2 linked regions of the Homo sapiens genome follow. The protein of the gene in region 1 interacts with the protein of each later gene in a pairwise test. Each region holds a gene or a part of one and is shown in the gene's direction. Other genes may lie near its edges.

Evidence for each region.
Region 2: the proteins of ZMYM5 (region 1) and LCE3B interact in binary tests that used the Homo sapiens proteins (3 or more experiments, as listed by UniProt).

The regions. Positions count from the first base shown.
Region 1 is NC_000013.11:19,860,650-19,868,391, reverse strand, and holds the start of ZMYM5 (zinc finger MYM-type protein 5), read left to right. Parts: upstream 1-4,742; 5' UTR 4,743-4,942; intron 4,943-5,022; exon of another isoform or gene 5,023-5,565; coding exon of another isoform or gene 5,566-5,568; intron 5,569-5,925; coding exon of another isoform or gene 5,926-5,993; intron 5,994-7,742. UniProt on the Homo sapiens protein: Functions as a transcriptional regulator.
Region 2 is NC_000001.11:152,609,062-152,614,621, forward strand, and holds LCE3B (late cornified envelope protein 3B), read left to right. Parts: upstream 1-4,749; coding exon 4,750-5,037; downstream 5,038-5,560. UniProt on the Homo sapiens protein: A structural component of the cornified envelope of the stratum corneum involved in innate cutaneous host defense.

The DNA.
Region 1 (7,742 bases):
AAAAGGGCTCAGAAGCAAAGTTGAAATGACCGAAGTTGAAACACTATGACTATCAATAGAATACCTAGGATAGATTAAAAGCAAAAGCTACTACATAAGCTTTAATCTCTGACTGTGCTCATCATAGTAAAATAATTGATCCCTTTGAAAGGTATTTGTAAAACAACTGTTGATATAAAAATAAAAATGTAGAGATGAAACTCTAACATTTTATTTGGAGAGAAAGAATTGCAGCTGGGGGCATATACACAGATCAGGTGGTTTTCTTCATGTCTGAGGAACAAAGAGAAGGTTGGGGGTTTTATGAAAAAGAGAAATGTTACCTATTGCTTGTTGAGAAAGCTCTCTGGCACTAGTAAGGTTCTGGGGAGCTGGCAAGCTCCAAATGGTGAGCAACGGCAGTGGCCAAAATTAATCCTAAAGTTGCAGCAAGCCATCTCAGCAGTCTTAGATAAAACTGGTTTCAGGCTGGGTGCAGTGGCTTACGCCTGTAATCCCAGTACTCTGGGAGGCTGAGGTGGGCAGATCACTTGAGGTCAGGAGTTCGAGACCAGCCTGGCCAACATGGTGAAACCACATCTCTACTAAAAATACAAAAATTAGCTGGACGTGGTGGCGCATGCCTGTAATGCCAGCTACTCTAGAGTCTGAGGCAGGAGAATCATTCGAACCCGGGAGGCGGAGGTTGCAGTGATCCAAGACTGCGCCACTGCACTCCAGCCTGGGCAACAGAGCAAGACTCCATCTCAAAGAAAAAAAAAAGCATCCTACTGATTCTAGAGATCTTTTTAAAAATATAGCAACCAGTCATCTCATGCTTTTTCAATCTTAGATTCTGTTCCTTCTCTTCTAATAAATTTTCATTATTTATTGCTTAAAATAGCTTTTCACTGGTTTGTCCAAGATAAGCATTAATTCCCTCAGTCTCTTTTCTCTCTTCCCCACCCCAGTTGTTTTTGATCTATGTTTCTAATATCCCTATGAATTACTTGGGATGACAATTTAAGAATATTGTAAGACAACACTTTTTTTTTTTTTTTTGAGATGGAGTTTCGCTCTTGTCGCCCAGGCTGGAGTGCGATGGCGCGATCTCTGCTCACGGCAACCTCCGCCTCCCAAGTTCAAGCAATTCTGCCTCAGCCTCCCAAGTAGCTGGGATTACAGGCATGTGCCACCACGCCTGGCTAATTTTTGTATTTTTAGCAGAGACGGGGTTTCTCCATGTTGGTCAGGCTGGTCTCGAACTCCCGACCTCAGGTGATCCACCCGCCTCAGCTTCCCAAAGTGCTGGGATTACAGGCGTGAGCCACCGCGCCTGGCTGTACTAAGCCACTTTCAAAGAATAAATAAATTTTGGTTCCAATTACATTTCCTCTACGGTTTATTTTACATATTAACTCCAAGAATTAAATATTTTCATATTACAATAGTAAGAAAGTGCTGATGTTACTTTAATAAGTCATTAAATTATTATAAACAACTTTTTTTTTTGTTTTTGAGACAGGGTCTCACTCTGCACCCAGATGCTGGAGTGCAGTGGCACAATCATGGCTCACTGCAGCTTTGACCTCCTGGGCTCAAGTGATCCTCCCACCTCGGCCTCCTGAGTAGCTGGGACTACAGGCATGCACCACTTCTGGCTAATTTTTAAAATTTTTTGTAGAGACTGGGTCCCACTATGTTACCTAGGCTGGAAGAATTTTTTCCTATTTATTTAGTTAGTTTTTGAGACGGAGTTTCGCCCTTGTTGCCCAGTCTGGGGTGCAATGGTGCAATCTCGGCTCACCGCAACCCCACCTCCCAGGTACAAGTGATTCTCCTGCCTCAGCCTCCCGAGTATCTGGAATTACAGGCATGCGCCACCACGCCCGGCTACTTTTGTACTTTTAGTAGGGACGGGGTTTCGCCATGTTGGTCAAGCTGGTCTCAAACTCCTGACCTCAGGTGATCTGCCCGTCTCGGCCTTCCAAAGTGCTGGGATTACAAGTGTGAGCCACCGCACCGGGCCAGAATTTTTTTTTTAGTGTACCACTGTGCTGATTGGGAATTAACAATGACAGGCAAAATTTACAAGCTTTTATTAATTAATGTGCCAGGTGCAATTCTAAGTGTCATATGTGTGATAATTTATTTAATTCTTTTTTTGCTTGTTTTTTGTTTTTCTTTTTTTGAGATACAGTCTTGCTGTGTTGCCCAGACTGGAGTGCAGTGATGCAGTCTCGGCTCACTGCAACCTCCACCTCCTGGGTTCAAGTGATTCTCCTGCCTCAGCCTCCCAAATAGCTGGGATTACAGGCGTGGGCCATTGTGCCCGGCCAATTCATTTAATTCTCAAAAAAAAAAAATCTTAAGTATTTGTTACATTTTTTAAATGATAAAAGTGAGGCTGAGTTTAAGTAACTTATCTGTTAAGATGATCACACAGCTACTAGTAATAAAGTACGATTCAAAGGCAGGCTATCTGGCCCCTTTGTGTAGACTTGGTCATAATGCTGTGACTTTGTATTAGCCGGGAGTCCTGAATTATCAAAAGATTTACAATAAATGACACTATCTTGTTGAACAATGAAGACTTTTTTTTCCTAAATTTTCGACAACCCTCGAAATCATGGCAGCATACTGAGGTGAGCGTTTTCATTGGGACATGAACCTGTCATTCCTGCCACTATCAGGAAAAAGAAATGTTACCCAATTTTAATCTTTGAACAGTATCAATGCCAAAAAATTGTGAAAAAGATAATCAGAAAATAGATGACAAGTGGCTACTGAGCTTACCATTTAAAGTTTCTGTCAGACCTTCAAATTTTCTCTATGGAGCCCTTCTCCACGAACTCAGGGTAGTCAGTGCTTGTAATTTACAGCAGTCATTAAAATGATGACATTACATGTAATTCACTTATTTCCAAAGAGTAACTGAGGACCTAAAAAATGTAGGTGATATTAGGCATATCCATGACATACAGCACTATGCAATATGCAAAGGCTTACACAGAACTCTCATCAATCCGTGAACATGCTTTTGTCTTAGATCAAGCTTGTCCAACCTGCAGCCCTTGGGGGTTGCATGCGGCCCAGGACGGCTTTGAATGCAGCCCAACACATATTTGTAAATTTTCTTAAAACGTTATGAGATTTTTTTGGCGTTTTGGTTTTTTCGTTTGTTTTAGCTCATCAGCTATTGTTACTGTTAGCGTATTTTATGTGTGGCCCAAGCCAATTCTTCCAATGTGGCCCCGGGAAGCCAAAAGATTGGCCACCCCTGCATTAGATGGTTAACGTCTGATTTTCATTGAATAAACCTGTGCCTTTACCATACCACAGAAGTAAAACGGGGCTCAATGTGTTTTTTAAAAATCACATTATCTGTATTTCCAGACATAAGGTAAGTATTTCACCAACTTTCATCCAAACTAACATCCTCAATTGTAATCCCACTAAGAACCGCCAGGGCGAGACGAAAGCGGAATCGCTTCCATCTTTACGTGGAGTCCGGGAAATGGTTCAGCACCATGACATCCGCCGAAGACGTAGGTGTAGACGAGGAACAAAAGAGAAGACCCCTCGTGGAGGTGGCCTGTGGGGCCCGCCCTCACCGGGCGCCATCTGTCCCTGATTCTGCTCCCCGCAGGGGCCGCAGCGGGTGCGCCCCGCGATAGAGCGGGCTGTGGAGGGAGCCTCCATGGAGTCTCCATCAACCATTCCGGACCAGGAGACGGTGGCAGGCAGTAAAAAGGCCTAGGCAGGGCCAGCGCCCCGGGCTGCTAGCACAGGACGGCGGCGCCCAGGGACGCCCCAGGGCAGGCCTCAGCCCCTCCAACCCGCGAGAGCCCAGCTCCAAGGGAGCCTGCAGCTCCCTCCATCTTGGTTGATGGAGGCGGGGAGCTGCGTCTGGGTGTCTCCACCGTCGCGCCCGACCAGTACTGCCCCGCGGACGCAGACGCCGGCAGCTGGGGCTGTTCCCTTGTCCGAATGGCAGAGCCCAGTCGGGGCTTCCGGGACAAGTCCTGGCCCCACGGGGTTTGGTTTTGAGGGGTCCCAAGTTCCCACAGTTGTCCCGACAAAATGGAGGACGTCGTCTCCTCCTGCTGCAGCCATGGCGGGAGGTGGGGGACTATTCCCCACGGGGCGCGGCGAGGGTGGAAGGGCCTCCACTGACCGCAGCGCACTCAAGACTCCAGTTCAACCGCGGCCCCGAAAGCTCACTTGGCCCCGCTCCAGCACCTCCCCGGCCTCGCCCCTCTTGGGGGCCTTCAAGGAACTGGACAGGGAGGGCGCTGGGGCATCCAGGCCGCCGCTCTCCTCGAGCAGAGGCGTTGGGAGCCGCTGCCGCAGCTTGGGCCCCCGGGCTCGGGCGAGGGCAGGCAGCCCCGCCGGAGTCTCCCGGGCTGTGTAGGTCCCGGAGAGCCCCGGGCCCCGAGGGGCCGAAGCGGGCCGCTACGACGGGCGGCGAATCTCGGGCTCCTGACCCTGGCGGACCCGGTAGCTGGGGGCGGGAGACCGGCGGGGAGACAACCCGACCGGGAGTTGAGGGCTGGCAGGCGGGAGTGGAACTGCAGGGCCGCGGGTGTGGCCCGCACCTGACGGACAGCTCTTCGGCCACCCCACCGAGGGGGCGCCCTGAAGGACGGCCGTCGGAGCCAATGGGCGTGCCCAAGGCGCCCAGGCTCGTCTCCCTCGCCAGCCAACGAGCGCACGGAGGGTGGGGCCTCCTCGGGCTCTGCTGCGCCGTCCCCTGCTTCTCCGCCTCCTCACCAGCGCGAAAAGCCGGGACTGGACCTCGCGGAGTTGTGCTTGTCGCCGAAGCGGGGTGGGCTTGTTCGTTCCGCGCAGCCGCAGCCAGAACCGGGTGACGCTTATCCCCGCTGTCTTTCCAGTCCAGGGCCGCTGAGAGTGGGGGTGGCTGGGAGCAGCGCAGCCTCCGGAGGAGGAGGCGGAGGCCGAGGTGAGTGGGGAGGCGGAGATGGGTGAGAGCAGCCTCCGGAGGCTCCCACCGACCCGGGATTAATACCCCGCGGCGCGGCCGCCGTCGCCGTTGCCGCTTCGGGGCCTCGAGGGCAGCTCGGGGCTGCCCTCCTGTCACCGGCGCTTTTGCGTCCGGCCTGAGGGGCTGGGAGAGTGCGAGCGAGGCCGGGAGGGTTGGGTGAGGCGGTCGCCAGCGGCGGAGGTCGCGGGGCCGGCGGGGAGGCGGGGTGGCGGGGCGGGTTGCCGGCCGCCCGGGGAGGTCGCGGGGCATTTTTCTTTCTCTCCTGCCGCATAGTGGCGGGGGGCGGGTTGGGCGAGGGAGGGGCGCCCCGGCCGGGTCTTCGCTGTCAGGACCGCGCTGCCACCCTGCCGCCGGAGCCGAGGTCCCCAGGTTTTTCGGGCGAGGGCTTCTGCCTCTGCCCCGCTGGGTCCCCTCCTTCGCTCATCTTTTCCCAGGCGCTGCGCGGCTTTTACTCTTTGCTGCTGATCTGGGCGAGTTTAATGGCGGATCTGGGGCCCTGTCGTCGACTGCTGGGGCCCCAGGGCAACTTCTTGAGGCAACTGTGGGCCCAGAGGTGATGCGCGCCGCCCGTTACCTCTGAAATGGTGCTTGGAGTGACAGAGATGACGCTGGGTGGGCAAATTTAGGAGGGAATACAAATCCCTTGCTGGCGTCGAGACGACGTTTACCCTTCCCTCTCCCGTCCTGGGAGCAGGCCTCGGATCCCCGAGCCCACTGCATCCCCAGTACTGCAGTTGGACGAAGCACTTTTAGCTTTGTCTCGTCGTTGCGGTTCCTATAGTTCTTTTTTTTCAACTTAGTTTCTCGGTAACATTAGGGTGGGGGAGGGTAGCAGAGCCCAGGAACTCCTTGGCCTCTTACCCCTTTGCCACCTCACGGTGTTGAGTTGGTTGTGCATCCAGATTGGTTGTACCGAAATTGGTTTTCAATTCTCATTCTAGGACCAGGAATCACCTTCAAGCCTATGTCGTGAGGCTTTGGCAGAAATTAAGAAGGAAATATCTCCATTGTGAGTTGTTTTTTTTTTTTTACCCCGCTTTGCTGTCTAATATAATTAGTGCAGTAGTAGGGTGTTCTTCCTGAGGGATTTGCCTTTGTGTTATCTTGAAGGCCTTGGCCTTCAAGCTAATTGCTTGGGTGCCCCTGTCCCCAGAGCCAAGCCATGGTAGTCCCTGGGAAGGCACGGGGAGTGCTGACATTTATACCACTGGAACTCTCTCAAGTTCCAGAACAAGATTTAAAGTTAGCTCTCTTTTAAGTGCCTTGAATTTAACAATTTTTTCTTTTCCAGTAGATTGGAAAAACTTTTTTACTGTTGGATTAAAAAGAAACACTACTGAATAATCTGTTGTTTTGACGTTGATATTTGCCTTGTATTTGAGGAAGACTGTTATTTATGTACCCTGACAGTCCTCCAGCTAGCATCACACGAGGAGATAACATAAACTAGTTGTCAAACTATTCCTAATTCTAAGATTGACCACCGAATCTGAGTGGCCTGATCTCTCTCTGTTAGGAAGTTAATGTTTGTTTTTGTTTTTTCGGGTTTTTTTTTTTTGCTACTAGACAGTGATCTATGTGTTCATTTTGGTACAGTACAAATGCCCTTTCTCTGTCAGCTATTCACTTAATGCTTTTAACACCAATCCTTGTGTGAATAATTTCATTAGGAGTGACAAAATGATTTTTTTTTCTTTAACAAGCTTTACTTCTATTTTTATTATCTGGGATTCAGTTCTTGCCAATTTTGTCCTTTCAACCCTGATCAAACAGTTTTCCATTGCTCATCAAAAACAAACTTGTGATTAGCTTATCTCCCATAGTAGTATTCCTGCCTTCCTTTTACCCTAGTTGCTTTCTACTAACTTATTTGCTCTTATTTTCTTACATTTCACAGCATATCTCTTTAATTAGTTAAACTTAGGACTGTGGCAGGATGTGGTAGGTAGGTAAAGTGGCTGGGCACAGTGGCTCATGCCTGTCATCCAACCACTTTGGGAGGCTGAGGTGGGTGGATAGCTTGAGAGCTTGAGCCCAGGAGTTCCAGTGTGGACAACATGGCAAAACTCTTTCTCTACAAAAAATACAAAAATTAGCTGAGCATGGTGGCACATGCCTGTAGTCCCAGCTACTCAGAAAGCTGAGGTGGGAGGATCGCTTGAGTTCAGGAGGTTGAAGCTGCAGTGAGCAGTGATCACACCACTATACTCCAGCCTGGGCAACAAAGAGAGAGTCTGTCTCAAAAAAAATGGGTAAAGTGGCTCTGGGCACTGTGACTCACTCCTGTAATCCCAGCACTCTGAGAGGCCAAGCTGGGAGGATTGTTTGAGCCCAGGGGGTTGAGTCTGCAGTGAACTGTGTTTGTGCCATAGCATTCCAGGCTGGGCGACAGAGCCATACCCTGTCTTAAGAAAAAAAAAAAAGCCTGGTCCATAAGGTTTGAGACACACACACACACACACACACACACACGTGCGCATATACATGCATATAGTTAGTGGGAGATACAATTCCCCCCCCCCCACCTGAGATATAATCCTTATCCTCTTTATTTTTTCCTTTATTTCTTGAGATTTTTCTCAGCTTTATCTTTCAATTCTTATTGCTGAATTTTTCCTTTTTGCCACTAAGCTTTTAATTTCCAGCAGTTCTTTTTATATTAGAAGTGTTGGCTGGGCATGGTGGCTCACACCTGTAATCCCAGCACTTTGGGAGGCCGAGGTGGGTGGATCACCTGAGGTCAGAAGTTCGAGACTAG
Region 2 (5,560 bases), on another chromosome or scaffold:
TCATATTGGTCAGGGTCTTCTATTGCCTCCCAGAGAGTTTTCCTTTTTCCCCATGGACTACAGGTAAGTAGCACATGAATATTCTCACCATCCAACACCCAACTCCCTGTCCTCCCTCTTGATCTTCTAAGATACTCCTGTTCATGAAAGACTTCCTCCCTGACCTTCCAAACTCCATCATGTCTCCAGTAACTACCCAGTTTCTACTTCCAGTTGCCTTTACAGTACCTGTGTGTGGTCATTATGAAGCTTCCACCAACATTCCTGAACTTGCTTCTCGTTTGTCCTTGGGGACCTGAAATCTGGGCATTTATTGATTTGATTGATGCTAGAAAGGGTGGGAGAATCCAAAACTGCCCCTTTCTTATAAAAACCTAAGAGCCTACTAAGTTGTGTATTGAACAGTCTAAAGTCAGTACAATAAAAACATGAAGCATTGTCTTTTTCGGTCATTGTTTTTTCCTATGCTCTGTTGAATCTCTCTTGAAAATACCTCAGGGAAATTCCACATTTCGTCAGTCACTTCTATGGATACTAAAGTCCAGACCAGCTAAATTTAATTCTGAACAAAATTTGAAACTCAAATTCTCCCTTGCACACAAGCATTGTCCAGGTATCTCCCAGGAGACTGGAGTTGGAAGGGGAATATGATGGGCTCTTTCTCTCATTCACTACCACCCCTCCACCTTCTTCCTCAGTAGCCCTTCCTCCTCCATTGTATTGGGAGATGGAAAAGGGGAGGGAGAATCATTACACATGTGACTGTACCACTAGCCTCCTCTGTTGGCAGGTTCTGCGGCAGGGCTGTCTCTGCTTCTTCTGTGTGGCAGGTTCTGCAGGAGGGCTGTCTTATAGGGTGCTTTTGTGAGTCCTGGAGTATCTTCAAGCATTTTCCTAACAGCATGATTTCCAGACATGGGATGAGCAGTCGGATTTAACCCTTCACGTACTCCCTAAGCTCCTACCTTCGTTGGCACCAGCCATGGCTTCTCGATAATGAGGTCTGTCTGCCCAACAGAAAACCATCCTAAGCACAACACTAGCAAGACTGTGGAAGCTGGTCTTCCTTCTTAGATGTCATCTGCTGTTATGTCTCAATGTCCTGTTCTATCTCTTCAGTTCCTTTTCTTTATTCAACAATAGGCTCAGAGGTTAGAACATCAAGTCTACTACTACAGCAGACATTCTGCTGGGGGATAAAAATGCTGTCTTTCTTTCTTGAAGGAATCTCTAACATCTACAGGCTGTCATTGTGAATCCTGCCCTTTCAATTGACCTCTGTTGTAGGAGAACAACCAGTTTCCCTCCCATGTACAAGATTAGGGGGAGACTACATCATTGTCTTTTAGGATAATAACTTTCCTATCTAAAAAATTCTCACCAAAGTTCAACCTTCCAAATATATAGCTGAACCAGAGAAATAGAGTTCTATTTTTTTTTCTTAGCAAGTCTTGCAGAGATTTTCAGCAGCTTATCCTAAGTTTACTTTAGTATATGGGGATAAGAGGCATCTACTATTTTCATCTTTTGACTTCAGCCAACATCGTAATACAAGAAGAAAATTTGAGTCCAACATCTTCTTACACACTGGGTCCTACCAGAGCTTTCTCAGGAGAATAGAGCGGTGTAAATATCTCAAAATACTATTTAATCTGAGGGAAAAATTCAAATCCATATAAGAAACTTAGGCACGTTGGAGGTATATGGCACTTTCTGGCCACTGCTTCCCATTTTCCTTAAGAATAACTTAGCTGCTTGCCATGGAATTTGATTGTCGCAGACATGGCAGGAACAGAATGGAGAAGGAACTGTGAGTTTTAAGCAAAGGGAGAAGAATTCTGTTTGTTGACTCATCCTTGATTGCTGATGTGGAATGTCCAAAATGCACTCCAAGGGGCTAAATCTGAGGTCCTGCAGTGCCTGTTCCTATAGTACCAATTGGAATGACTAAGTCATGAAATTTTTCCTGGATTCATCCAGCCAGAGCAGTCTCTGTATTTCCTTGATGTCTTTGGGCCACAGGAAGCCAAGGCTCCTCAGGATGGGACTCTCAGGACTAGTGATTCTCAGGGAGGTGCCCTTGTGCTGTAGGGGAAGTGACAAGATCATGATCTTATAGCTACTGTTTGTCATCACGGGACAAATCCTGTGCGTGTGAGAACTGTGGACACCTGATTTCAGGAAGAGGAGAGTGGTGACAGGAGCAATCACTAAGGTAGAAGGGAGATTAATGAGCTCTCCAGGTCTTGTGGGGAGGCTTTCAAGACAGGCAGTCAAGAATGGGGCTGGAGGAAAGCCTAACAGTCATCTATTGTGTTTTATAAAACAGCGGTAACACGATATATTGAATGTCATAGGCAAGGATTTTTTTTCCTTTGAAACTTGCCCAAAATGTGTGATTTATGTTTCTTTCTCAATTAACGCTTCCATCTCCTACCTCCCTCAGCTGCCAATGACTCAGGGTTGCAACCCATGCAGGAAAATGGCTATCATGCTTGCTCTGTTGGGAGGACAAGACTTGCTTATGATAAATACAAGATACAGAGAAATAAACGTTCAGATTTGCAGCAAAGTCTAAACCCCAGTAATTTTTTAACTGAATTTTTCAACAGATTGTGTCCCTCTTCAACTTCACCAGTATGGAATGAGAAAGTACCCATTTCAACCATCATGAGTAATTCCTTCCAATGCACTAGCAATTTGTGTGTTCTAAAGAATGCAAAAGAAATGGACACCTAGTGTAGTCCCGGGGCTAAGCCCAAAAATATCCCTTCAGCAAGAGGCTTCTGCAGGCAGAAGAATATCAGAGAGGGGAGTCAATGACAGGTCTGATCCTTTTCCTCTTCCTCCATTCCCAAGCCACATTCCTAGAGACAATTCACTTTCTCTTAAATATCTCAAAATAAATCATGGAATTCTGCCCCCCACCTCCCACCATGTTTTAAAGAGGGTAAGTTGTAAAGTGCATACTCTGATAAGGAGTTTGTTGTCTAAAAGCCATAAACTATCAAGTACAGGGAGCAATAACAGGCATTTACCATAAACATGTGTTATTTAAAATTACCATTTAACTTAAATTTAATGTTCTGTTATAGTTCTGACTTTAACTTTTTAGAAACAAATAGCAAAGTTCAGGTATTATAATAATAGAGATGAATTCAGTGAAAAATTCATGTCTAAAACTATTATACAATCAAATGGGAAAAATACAAATCAGACTTTATATGTCATCCTACAGAAACCTTAGAATTTATAAGGTTTGTTCCATTAAATTTGATGCACATGATGTTACTACCATCACTAACCTCATCATCAACAATACATTGAACGAATCATGTTCATGACTCACACCAACTATCTTACATATTTTATGCTCATGGACCATTTTATTTGCTTATAATCAGTATCATATATCCCATGGGAAGCTAAATATGGGCAAATTGACCTTTTTCATATTAAGTATGAGTCTTGTGATCTCAACTATTGTATATTCCTTAATGATTTTGTCTGCTTATTCATATAATCCTACCTTAATTCTCTTAAGGGCCCCAACAGCCCCAGACAGGGCTTGTGTCCCATTCTCCATTCATTACCTAATACATCTCACTCCCAGGGTCCAATAGTCTCAGATCACCCAACATCCCCAAGAGTCAGGAGCCAATTACATCTCAACAAACCATGCCCCTGGGGAATATGCAGAGGAATAGGGAAGTGATGTCCAAAAAAAGACATCCTGGGATACCCAGGACGAATCACATGATATCATATCAGACACATAAGTTTACATCTCTGATGTTAGTCCAGTTAACTTTGAAAGGCTCAAGGTCAGGAAATGTGTCATATGCATCTTTACATTCTCCCTCAAAGTGCAAGAGGCAGAGCTCAAACTAAAGCATCCAAACTGAATGAGTGAAAGGAGAAGAAATGACAGGTCCCCAACACACGTGGAGATCTGTCATCAAGACTTCCTGGTTCCCTCTTGCCAGGCATCTTGGCAAGCATGAAGCAAGATGCTGGAGGCCTGGGATGGGAGTGTTTGGCTCTGCCACCTCCCCTTGTTGTGAAAGCAGCATGCCTGGTCTGTGCATCTCTAACCCTGCACAAGATAAAAAGCCTCTTATCTTGGGCTCCTCATCCACAGCCTCCTAGAGAACAGCCTTCTCCTCTTCAGCATCTTCTGTATCTGGCAAGTATCTAGCAGGGGACCCTCAGCTGGGGGTGTCTGGGGAAGATAAGCCCAGATTTTACTAGGGAAGGGGGAAGCAGAGGTGTCAGATGTACAGACAGCAGGAAGAGGACTTCAGAGGGCAGCTGAGGGTAGGGGAAGGGGCAGTGAGCAAGGAACCTCTTTGGGGTGCATGGGAGTCTGTGACTCACCAGAGCCCTGGCTCTCAGCATTCTCTCCACTCTTTTCCTGGGAGATGCATACATGCCCAGTGATATTCTCTGAGAATCATTACTCAATTAGGTGCTTTTGCATCAGTGTTTTTGTGAAGACAGGAGGACTTGGGACCCAGTTAGAAGACACCAGCATTCTTTTCTGGAAGAGGGAAAAATGGAAGGAAATGTCTTACCAGGCCAGTTTTACTTGAGATCAGTTTCTGTTTTTATTCCTGAAGTGCATATCTCAGGAAGCAACTGGTATTAGGAGTAAGGGCTTCATAAAACCATTTGTAGAGGAGACATTAGCCTGGAGCTTTTGCGTTGACCTTTTCCTTTTATCTATCCAGGCTGTCACCTCCTGCCAAGATGTCCTGCCAGCAGAACCAGCAGCAGTGCCAGCCTCTGCCCAAGTGCCCCTCACCCAAGTGCCCCCCAAAGAGCTCAGCACAGTGTCTGCCTCCAGCCTCCTCCTGCTGTGCTCCAAGACCTGGGTGCTGTGGTGGCCCCAGCTCTGAGGGCGGCTGCTGCCTGAGCCACCACAGGTGCTGCAGGTCCCACCGATGCCGGCGCCAGAGCTCCAACTCCTGTGACAGAGGCAGTGGTCAGCAAGATGGTGCCTCCGACTGTGGCTATGGCTCTGGAGGCTGCTGCTGACCTAATTCCTGATGCTGAGACAAGCGACTTTAGAGGAAACAAGTATCTCAAGGAAAAAGGAAAAGCCCCAACTTGTTAGATCCTTTCTTAGACATGCTAATTAACCATTCATTCATGGGGAAGAATTGTGCTTTTTCCAAAAGGCTCCACCCATGTGTTTTCCAAGATCGTGGAAGCCTCCTTTCCTCCTGACAATGTTATCACTTGTGTCTGATTATACAGAGAAATAAAGCTTCTGAACAGCACCTGCATCTAACTTGTCTTTCACTCTGCTCCACAGAAGGCTGCTCAGTGGGTCTCCCCTCCCTCAGCTCCTGAAGGTCTAGCACACCCTGCATAGAGAATAATACTGGCTTGTGGCTGGAAAATTAAACGTTCATATTTTTCTTCATGCAGGGAGTCCCTGTGGGAGATTTGAGTATAGAAGTGTAGGAGAAAGGGGAGGTGTTGAGAGAGGTTGGTGAAAATCTCTTAAAAAAGGCCTAAGATCAGAGCAGAACTGAAGGAAATAGAGACACAAAAA